Linked DNA regions of Homo sapiens: all the other regions are linked to region 2. The links come from fine-mapping of genetic effects on gene expression. A gene starts in region 2. Each other region holds a variant in brackets. All regions are shown on one strand. Distances are between the middles of the regions.

What was found. PIP is the estimated chance that this variant, and not a neighbour inherited with it, causes the effect. A credible set is the group of variants that fine-mapping cannot tell apart.
Region 1: its variant is the best candidate, but not a certain one, in a credible set for the expression of RPS6KA3 in fibroblasts (GTEx, PIP 0.57).
Region 3: its variant is the best candidate, but not a certain one, in a credible set for the expression of RPS6KA3 in whole blood (TOPMed, PIP 0.82).

What each region holds. Positions count from the first base shown.
Region 1 is chrX:20,371,313-20,374,161 of GRCh38, reverse strand. No RefSeq gene overlaps it. Among named protein-coding and RNA genes, the nearest start is that of RPS6KA3, 110 kb to the right of the region's middle. The variant G/A (reference allele first, on the strand shown) is at 1,412.
Region 2 is chrX:20,265,443-20,267,942 of GRCh38, reverse strand. RPS6KA3 (ribosomal protein S6 kinase A3) reads left to right here and starts at 1,034. Exons shown (of 22, transcript NM_004586.3): 1 at 1,034-1,379. The coding sequence starts at 1,311. RefSeq lists silencers at 258-552, 974-1,193, 1,314-1,573.
Region 3 is chrX:20,408,576-20,411,424 of GRCh38, reverse strand. No RefSeq gene overlaps it. Among named protein-coding and RNA genes, the nearest start is that of RPS6KA3, 140 kb to the right of the region's middle. The variant T/C (reference allele first, on the strand shown) is at 1,272.

The sequences.
Region 1 (2,849 bases), 110 kb before region 2:
TGGGCCGTTTTAGTAGCCCACCTCTCTCATGGGAGCTGGGCCCTGAGCTGGGCCCGCTTCACAGGCCGACTTCTCTCTCCCCTTTCCTCTCCTCCCTTCCACAGGTGTTGGCCTCAAGGGCACACTTCATAAACATCCTTCCCACTAAACTCTGTCTCAGAGCCTGCTTCTTGGAGAACTCAACCTGTAGTAGGAGAATATGGAAACAAATCAATAGTTGGAATTTAGGGTTTGAAATGGTGTGTAGCTCTGGCTGGTATTACTAAACTTGTCCAAACCTATTACCACAAGACCTATGCAGCACCAGAAATGCAGCACAACTTTAAAAAATTACTCAGGTTAGTACTACTTGGTAAATGGGACTGGGAAATTTGATGCTGGGAAAATTGATTATTTAGAAAAAAAAAACCATAGATAGAGGCCTCACTTTCTATATCTACCAATTAATTTTCAGATACATTTGACGGTTAGAGGCATCTTTTTAAAATATAAGAAAAGGAAAAGAAAATAGAGGTGGGTATTTAGCCAATTTTTGCCTTTTATGAAATTTTAAAAGTAATTTTCACACAGGTGTTAAAATTTTAATTTGTTTTTGAAACTTAGAAAGTTATAAAAGTACAAAGAAAAACATAAACTCCTCTAGCCCCATCACCCAGAATTAACAAGTTGATTATTAACAAAATTAAGGTTTTATAATATTTGCTTGTGCTTATCTGTTAACATTTGCACGCATGATATTTTCTCAGTTTGAGTGCTTGGATGCAAGAGAGCAGAAAAAGGATTTACTGGTTATTGAGTCAGTAGCAGATAGAAGGAAAGTCTGGAGATGGTTTCATAAGATGAGCAAGTGCAAAGACAGCTGGACAACAGGAAGCACAGCCAGGTTACAGCACAGGAACAGTTTTAGGTGTCACCATCGCTCCTACCTTCCCTGCACATTAGACACCCCCGCTTCTGGCCTCTCAATGTGCTGTTTCAACCACGAGTAATTTTTCAACTCTTCCTGAATTTTAGCATCACTCTCTCAAGATTCAAAGTCCATTCAGGTGGCCTAGGTTGCACTCTAGCTGCAAAGGCCGGGGAGAGGGCGTATCTGAGCCCCTTACAGAAGCAAGACACTGTCTCCCAAAAATACTCACAAAATAGGAGAGTGCTAGTTATGAAGCTATTTTATCGCTGCTTCAAGCGCAGGCTCCTGTATATCCCTTTGTGATGTCAGGGCTGAGACTCTCTTTTTCTGTAAACTTCATTTCTCCTTCATCACTTGCTCCCTATATTGACTCTGCCAATAGAGGACCCTAAAAGTCTGGGGAAGAAAGAAAGGTCAATGTTCCATCCTATTTACTTCCTATGCCTGTCAGCATTACTTTAGTAATGCTTTTTCACCCCAGCAGTGGTGATTCATGCCTGT[G/A]GTAGCAGTAAATTCCTGATTGCAATATTTCCAACACTCCCAGAACCAGCTCATCATGCCCACTCTGAGCTCAAAGACTCCAGTACCAGGCATTCAGCCCTCATCCTCCTCAGAGGTCCAAGTTTATGCCCCATGGGGCTCCTCCTCCAAGCCTCTACGTTTTGAAGATTCCAACCTTTTCCCTTGGTTCATCCATCCTTAGGGGTGGTAGTCCTTAGTGGCTCCTTTTTGCTTTCAGTTGTCCAATACCTAATTGACAATTCTTTAAATTAAATTCTCTCTGTTAAAATTTCTGGTGTGCTTTCTTTCTCTGGTTGAAAAAAGGGGTTCCCCTAAAAGAGGAAGAGTGTTTAGAGGCTGAGTACTCCCCACCAAAAATAACCACAAATGTCTGCCACAGGTATTATCCTGTTTCTTCACTATATATATTGAGTATTTAAGTCCTATCCATGTTGATATAGACAGAAATGTTTATCATTTTTAGCTATTATATACTATTTCATGGCGTGAACATGATTTATTGAGGTACATTTATGTTGTTTCTAATTTTTCACTATTAAAACCAATGCTGTAATTAAGACAAAAGAGGAAACCGATGTTTATCTCAAACGACTGCAGAAAAATGCATTTGACAAAATTCAACACCAACTTATGATAAAATCTCTCAGCAATCTAGGAATAGAAGGGAACTTCCTTAACCTGATAAGGAATATCTAAGAAAAACCTGTGGTTTTCATCATACTTAATGGGGAAAGACTGAATGCTTCCCCCCAAGGTCCAGACCAAAGCAAGAATATCTACTTGCCGCTTGTATTCAACATCGTACTAAGGGTCTTGGCCAGTGAAATAAAGCAAGAAAAATGAATAAAAGAACAGATCGACAAGGAAAAAGTAAAACTATATTTATTTGCAGATGACATGGTGACATGTATAGAAAATCCTAAGGAATCTATAGAAAAACCTATTAGAGCTGATAAATGAATTTAGTAAGGTCATAGGATACAAGGTCTATATACAAAATTTAATTGTATTTCTATATGCTAGCAATAAACAATTAGCAATTTAAATTAAAAAACATTACCATTTACAATAGCAACAAAAATATGGAATTCTTAAGTATAAATTTAACAAACTTGCAATTTAGATGCACACTGAAAACTGTAAAACATTTATGCCTGAAATTAAAGATGAACTAAATAAATGGGAAAATATACCGTACTCGTGGATTGGAAGACTCAATCTTGTTAAGACGCAATTCTCTCCACATTAATCTATACATTCAATGCAATCACAATCAAAATCCCAGAAAGCTTTTTTTTTAGAAACTGACAAACCAATTCTAAAATTTATATGGAAATACAAAGGACTTATGATGAACAAAATTAGACTTAAAAATGAACAAAATTAGAAGACTTATACTACCTGATTCAAGACTTAC
Region 2 (2,500 bases):
TAAATCTAATCTCTTATTTAAAGTCAACAGAGGAGCAGGAACCCCGCGCTCCTGCCTACAAGATATTTTTAAATAATTCTCCAACCTCTACCGAGAGGGACAGCCTTAAGGAACCTCCCTGTTTTCCCCTCTTGAAGATTTAGGTAGCAGACGTGGGGCGGGGGGCAGCGGTTCCAGGGTCGCAGCTGAAGGCCGAGAGCTCTGCGCACTTGGGGAGGAGAATTTGGGCTGGGGGCGGTGCGGGGGAAGCGACTAATACAAGAGGAATTAATCCCAAATAGCCACAATTTAACAAAAGAGCGTCAACTTGAAAAGACTTGAATCAAACCGGGAGCCGAGCCCCCAGGAGGCTCCTAGGCACGAAGCCTCCCTTGCCTCCGTCGGGGGAGATGGGGGGCAGGTGATTTCCCAGCATGTGACCCTGAAGAGGGAGGGTCTTGGGCCATTACGGGATGCGCCCAGAGACTAGGCGCGTCCGCACGCACGCACCCCCGGAGGAGACAAGCCGAAAAGACACTCCGCACCCCTCCCCGGGTCCTTGGCTCGGGACTGCGCCCCCGGTACTTTGCCCACCTCCCTCCCCAGCTGGGCGGGGACCACTGTTCTCCCTCATTCCCAAGGAGCCTCCGACCTCCTTGGACCCTTGGCGGTGAAAGGCTCCCAGCCTTCGCCCCTCCTGCCTTTCCCATTTCTTTCCCCCGCCTCCCGCCGACGCCCCCAGATCTGTTGGGCTCGCCCTTCCTGAAAGTAGGCGAGGCCCAGAAGCTGAGGTTGGGGCGCAGAAGGAGGGGGGTGGGAAGAGGGAGGAGCGGAGCGCAGCGGCCGGGGGCGTGTCTTCCACTAGCCCAGCCCCTGGGTGCGCGCGGCGGTGGTGGCGGCGGCCGAGCCTCGCTTTGAGAGACAGGTATCGCTTAGGCGCCATGTTGTGAGCGGAAGTGGGGGAGCGCGCGGCGGTCGCTGTTCTGCTGGGAGCGGGCGCGGGAACCGGCGGGGGGGGCGGAGCCGTAGTCCCGGCGGCGGAAGGAGGAGAGGAAGAAAGGGGCGAGACCCGGTGCCCAGCGGAGGCGCGAGGCTCTCGCTCAGCGCGCGGGCGTCTCTGGCCAGGCGCGCGGCTTTCGGGCGGTCGGCGTCGGCGTCGAGCCCTCTCTGGGGCCGCCGCCGCTGCTGCTGCTGCTGCCGCTGCCGCTGCCGCTGCCGCCGCCGCCGCCGCCGCCGCCGCTGCCGTGGGGCTCGGGCGGCGACGGAGCGGGGCCGGCCGTGGGGCGGGCGGGGAGGGAGGAGGCGGTGAAGGCGGCGGGCCGGGGGGGAAGATGCCGCTGGCGCAGCTGGCGGACCCGTGGCAGAAGATGGCTGTGGAGAGCCCGTCCGACAGCGCTGAGGTGAGTGCAGCAGGGCGGCCGGGGCCGGCGCATCTCCTCCTCGCGCCCCCGCCGGCTCGCTTCGCTCCCCGGAGCTGGCCACTCGGCCCGTTCTGATCCCGCTCGCGTCTTTCCCCCGGGCTCAGGGTTTTGGTTTGGGTTGTTGGGGTGGGTCTATTGGCCGGTCTGTCTGTTCCTTCCATCCTCACCCTCACCTCCTTCCCTCGCTCGGGGGGCTGCCAGTGTGGTGGCGCGTGGGGTTTGGAGTGGGCGCTGGGGCTTTGCAAGAAGCCAATTTTAATCAACTTTGCGTGGGGGAAGCGGGAGGCGGAGCGGGGGCCGGCGGGGAGTTGGGAAGTTTGGCCCAGCCGGGTCGGGGGCTTTCCCGGACCTTGGCGACTTTGGGAGATGAGGGAGGGGTAGGGATCGGGTTCACCGGGGAGCAGGGACTCTCGAGTCCAGCCGAGGGAGGGGCTGCTGCGGGGAGACCGGCGCGCGGGGCACGGGCGGCGGCGACCTGTGGGGGTTTCGGGTAGGGGGTGCAGGGTTTTGCCTCCCCCTCGTCTGCCGCAGCGGTTTCTGCTGCTGCAAAGAAGAAAGCGGAAGCCTAAGGTCCCCTACCCCCTCCGTTTCTGAGGTCGCAGAGCTAGACCCCCGTCCCTGTGAGTTTAACTTGAGTTTCCTGTCCATGGAGGTGAGAGGGTGATATTCAAGGAGATCAGCGGCCGCCGTAAAAGGCTTTCTGGTTTTCCTCGCCCGGGATCTGGTGACCGTCCCTGAGTCACCCATCCTAGTGCCCAAAACCCAAACAATATACCCAAACAGGGCAAAACAGAATTTCCCCGGGCGCATCACTACACCGAGCTTTCCTGAACCGCCCCTATCCCAGAACAACTCGGGGTCTGCGAAAATAATCCAGACAAGACCCGTTCCAAGGTATCACCGCTCCTCTCCGGAGTGGAAAATCAATTCCTGATGGTGGCGCGTCTGTGATTCTTCCTTCTTGACTTTTTGCTGCCTTCTCTCCCCGCAGCGGACTTTAGGGGATTACAGGATGATAGGCTGCGTGTGTGTAATAGTTACTGAGTGAGTGACCCCATTTCTGGAAAGCATGACTGAAACGCGGGGGTGGAACGGGGCAG
Region 3 (2,849 bases), 140 kb before region 2:
AACGAACACTCAAACATTTCCTGCAGTGACTCCTTTAGAAAACTGGCTTTGTGTGGTATTAATTGCTACTTAAAACAAAGTTCCCCTGGTTAAATGCACTTGAGAACCACAGTAAATGAAGATAACAGATTTCTTGATGAAGGACTTCCCAGGGCCTCGACTGTGAAATTGTGCACCGTGAAACTCCAGGAGGCAGCATTCAGAATGCAACACGTCCCAAACATTTTTTGAAGTGTTTAGGGATATAGGAGCTGTTAGTCTCAGCAAATCATGTGTCATTTCACAACTAGCAGATAAGTTTCCCCAGGACAGGAATATTGTCCTTCTTGTCTAGTGTTGTCTCTGGAGACCTAGGGCGATGCTTGCCACATGATCACCCGCTAAATATGTGTGCAAGGAAGGCAGAGAGGGAAGGGAGAAGGGAGGTAGCACAGATGTGGTGTTTCTTGCCTCTGCTCTTCCATTTGTACCATTGCTTCTGTGAACCATAAATGTATTGGCTTTGTCTACCTGGTGAGCCCCAATTATCCTTCAAAACTCAGCTTACAAGTCATCATTTCTCTGAAAACTTCTCTGACCTCCTCAAGCAAAGTTGGGTAATTCATTCACCATTATAGATACTGTAAGTACTGTTGCTTCTGTCCACATCCCCTGCAGTGCTGGGGGCTGCATTGTCGATTTCATCTTTCCTACCATGCTAAGTGTAAAGTCCACCATACTGTAGGTGCTTAATGAGTATGCACTAGAAAGAGGCCAGTAGAGAGGGAGGGAGGGAAAAAGGAAAGAGATGGACGGGGAGGAAAGAGAGAATGAGGGAGGGAGGGAGGAAGGAAGAGGGAGAGAGGGAGGCAGAAATTAATAAAGCATACTCAGAGATCATTTTCATAATAGCAAATGGTTGGTAATGATAGGATTGGAGAGGTTTCCTGGGGACAGGTAGTGGAGAGACATGGATATAAGAAAATGAGTTTACCCTATATTCTGTAAGAAGCCACAAATTAAGCAAGGAGGTAGCATTAGATCAGCTTTCCTCTGCAAATTGTTTTCAGTCGACAGGTAAAATGCTACTATACTACGTATTCCAAGGTAACCCGAATACAATTTAAGCTATTTACTTAATAGAGGAGATCATATGTAGCAAAAAGAAAAAACATTGCACAAGGCCTTCAACTGCCTTAAACTAACATAAAGATCTCTGGAGATGGAGTGGAAATGCTGCACTCAACTGGGGCCGGGTAACCAGAAATGGTCACTCATGAGACTGAACCATG[T/C]GTTTACATGGTAAATATTGAATCAAATCTGCCCTATGTTGCTAAACAGAGGGATGAGTCCCGAGAAGCATAATCTACAATCAGAGTGCAATAAAATGTTTTCCTTTTTTTTTTAAAGCCAATAACAGTACAAATAAGTGTTAAATCAAGATTCATTTATCGCTAGCCCTTATGAATGGAACATAAAGAGCTTGTCAAATTTACGAGTTCCATTCTCTACCCTTCGCATTTTCAAATAGATGCTGACAGTTTACTCACGACTGTCATACCTGCCGAAGTTGAAGGAATGATTTGTATTTTTCTGAAAGTGGCCCGGCATCATAGGTATCTTAAATGTTCTACACTAAATAAGAGAAAATCAGAATGTAACAAGTGTGTCTGTTTTATACACTTGTAGTCTCAACTAATTCAAAGGTGGCTGAGAGCACTAAGCAAACTAAATCTTATTTGTATTGAAATTTTAATAAGAGGTGAAGATTCAATTCTGCCCAAATCTAAACAAGCCAAAAGAATTACAGAAGTAGGTCAATTATCCAGAAGCTTCCAAAAATATAAGAAACTTCATGGGGCGAGGGGGAGGGATGTGCGCCTGCACTCGCGTGCATGCGTTAGGGTGGGTTGGGGAGGCAGGAGAGGTCAGAATGGATTTGAAGAGATTTCGGCATGTGGATATTCCAGAGCATCTGTTGCTGTCAATATATTGGGGTAGGGGTGACATTATTTAGGCATATCCAGGAATGGATGAGTTTAAGTAACAGATGTGTTACTTACCAATATAACCTGTATAGTCCATGTAAACTGTGGCTGAAAATATCTGAGGACACCCACATCCCATCAACAAAATTTTGAATATAACTAGAACTTTTAAAAAGCTGATTGGATTGTTCTATGTTTATAAAAGATCTTAATGGCAGAAAAAGGATGCTCATATTGGGGTCAAAAAAGAAGGCTCAGTCAGAAAGCAAGAATCAGCCGGTATCAGTGCAACCACCCAGGAGTGAAGGCACTGCACAGCCAAAATGGACACCCCACCCTACTCAACAGGTCCACCCCTGCGGTAGGCTATAAAATGGCCCCCTACATGATATCCACATTCGAATCCCTGGAACCTGTGACTGTTACCTTACATGGCAAAATTGACTTTGCAGATGTGATTAAATTAAGGATCTTCAGATGGGGGATTTTCCTGTATTATCCAGGTGGGTCCTAAATTATGCCATCATATGTATCCTTATAAGAAAGAGGCAGGAGATTTGACATACACAGAGAAAGCAATGTGAAGATGGGAGAAGAGATTGGAGTGATGCAGCCACAACCCAAGGAATGTTGAGTAGCCATTAGAAGCTGGAAGAGACAAGAAACAAGTTCTCCCCTAGAGCCTCCAAAGGGAGTGTAGCAACATCTTGATTTGGGCCCAGTGATACTGATTTAGGACTTCTGAACTCCAGATCTGTGAGAGAATACATTTTACTTGTTTTAAGCCACTCAATTTGTGGGAATTTGTTGCAGTGGTTACTGGGGACTAATACAACCCCCCTACCTCAGGATGAGTTCCTCAGGCAGTCAGAGCTTCAGGAC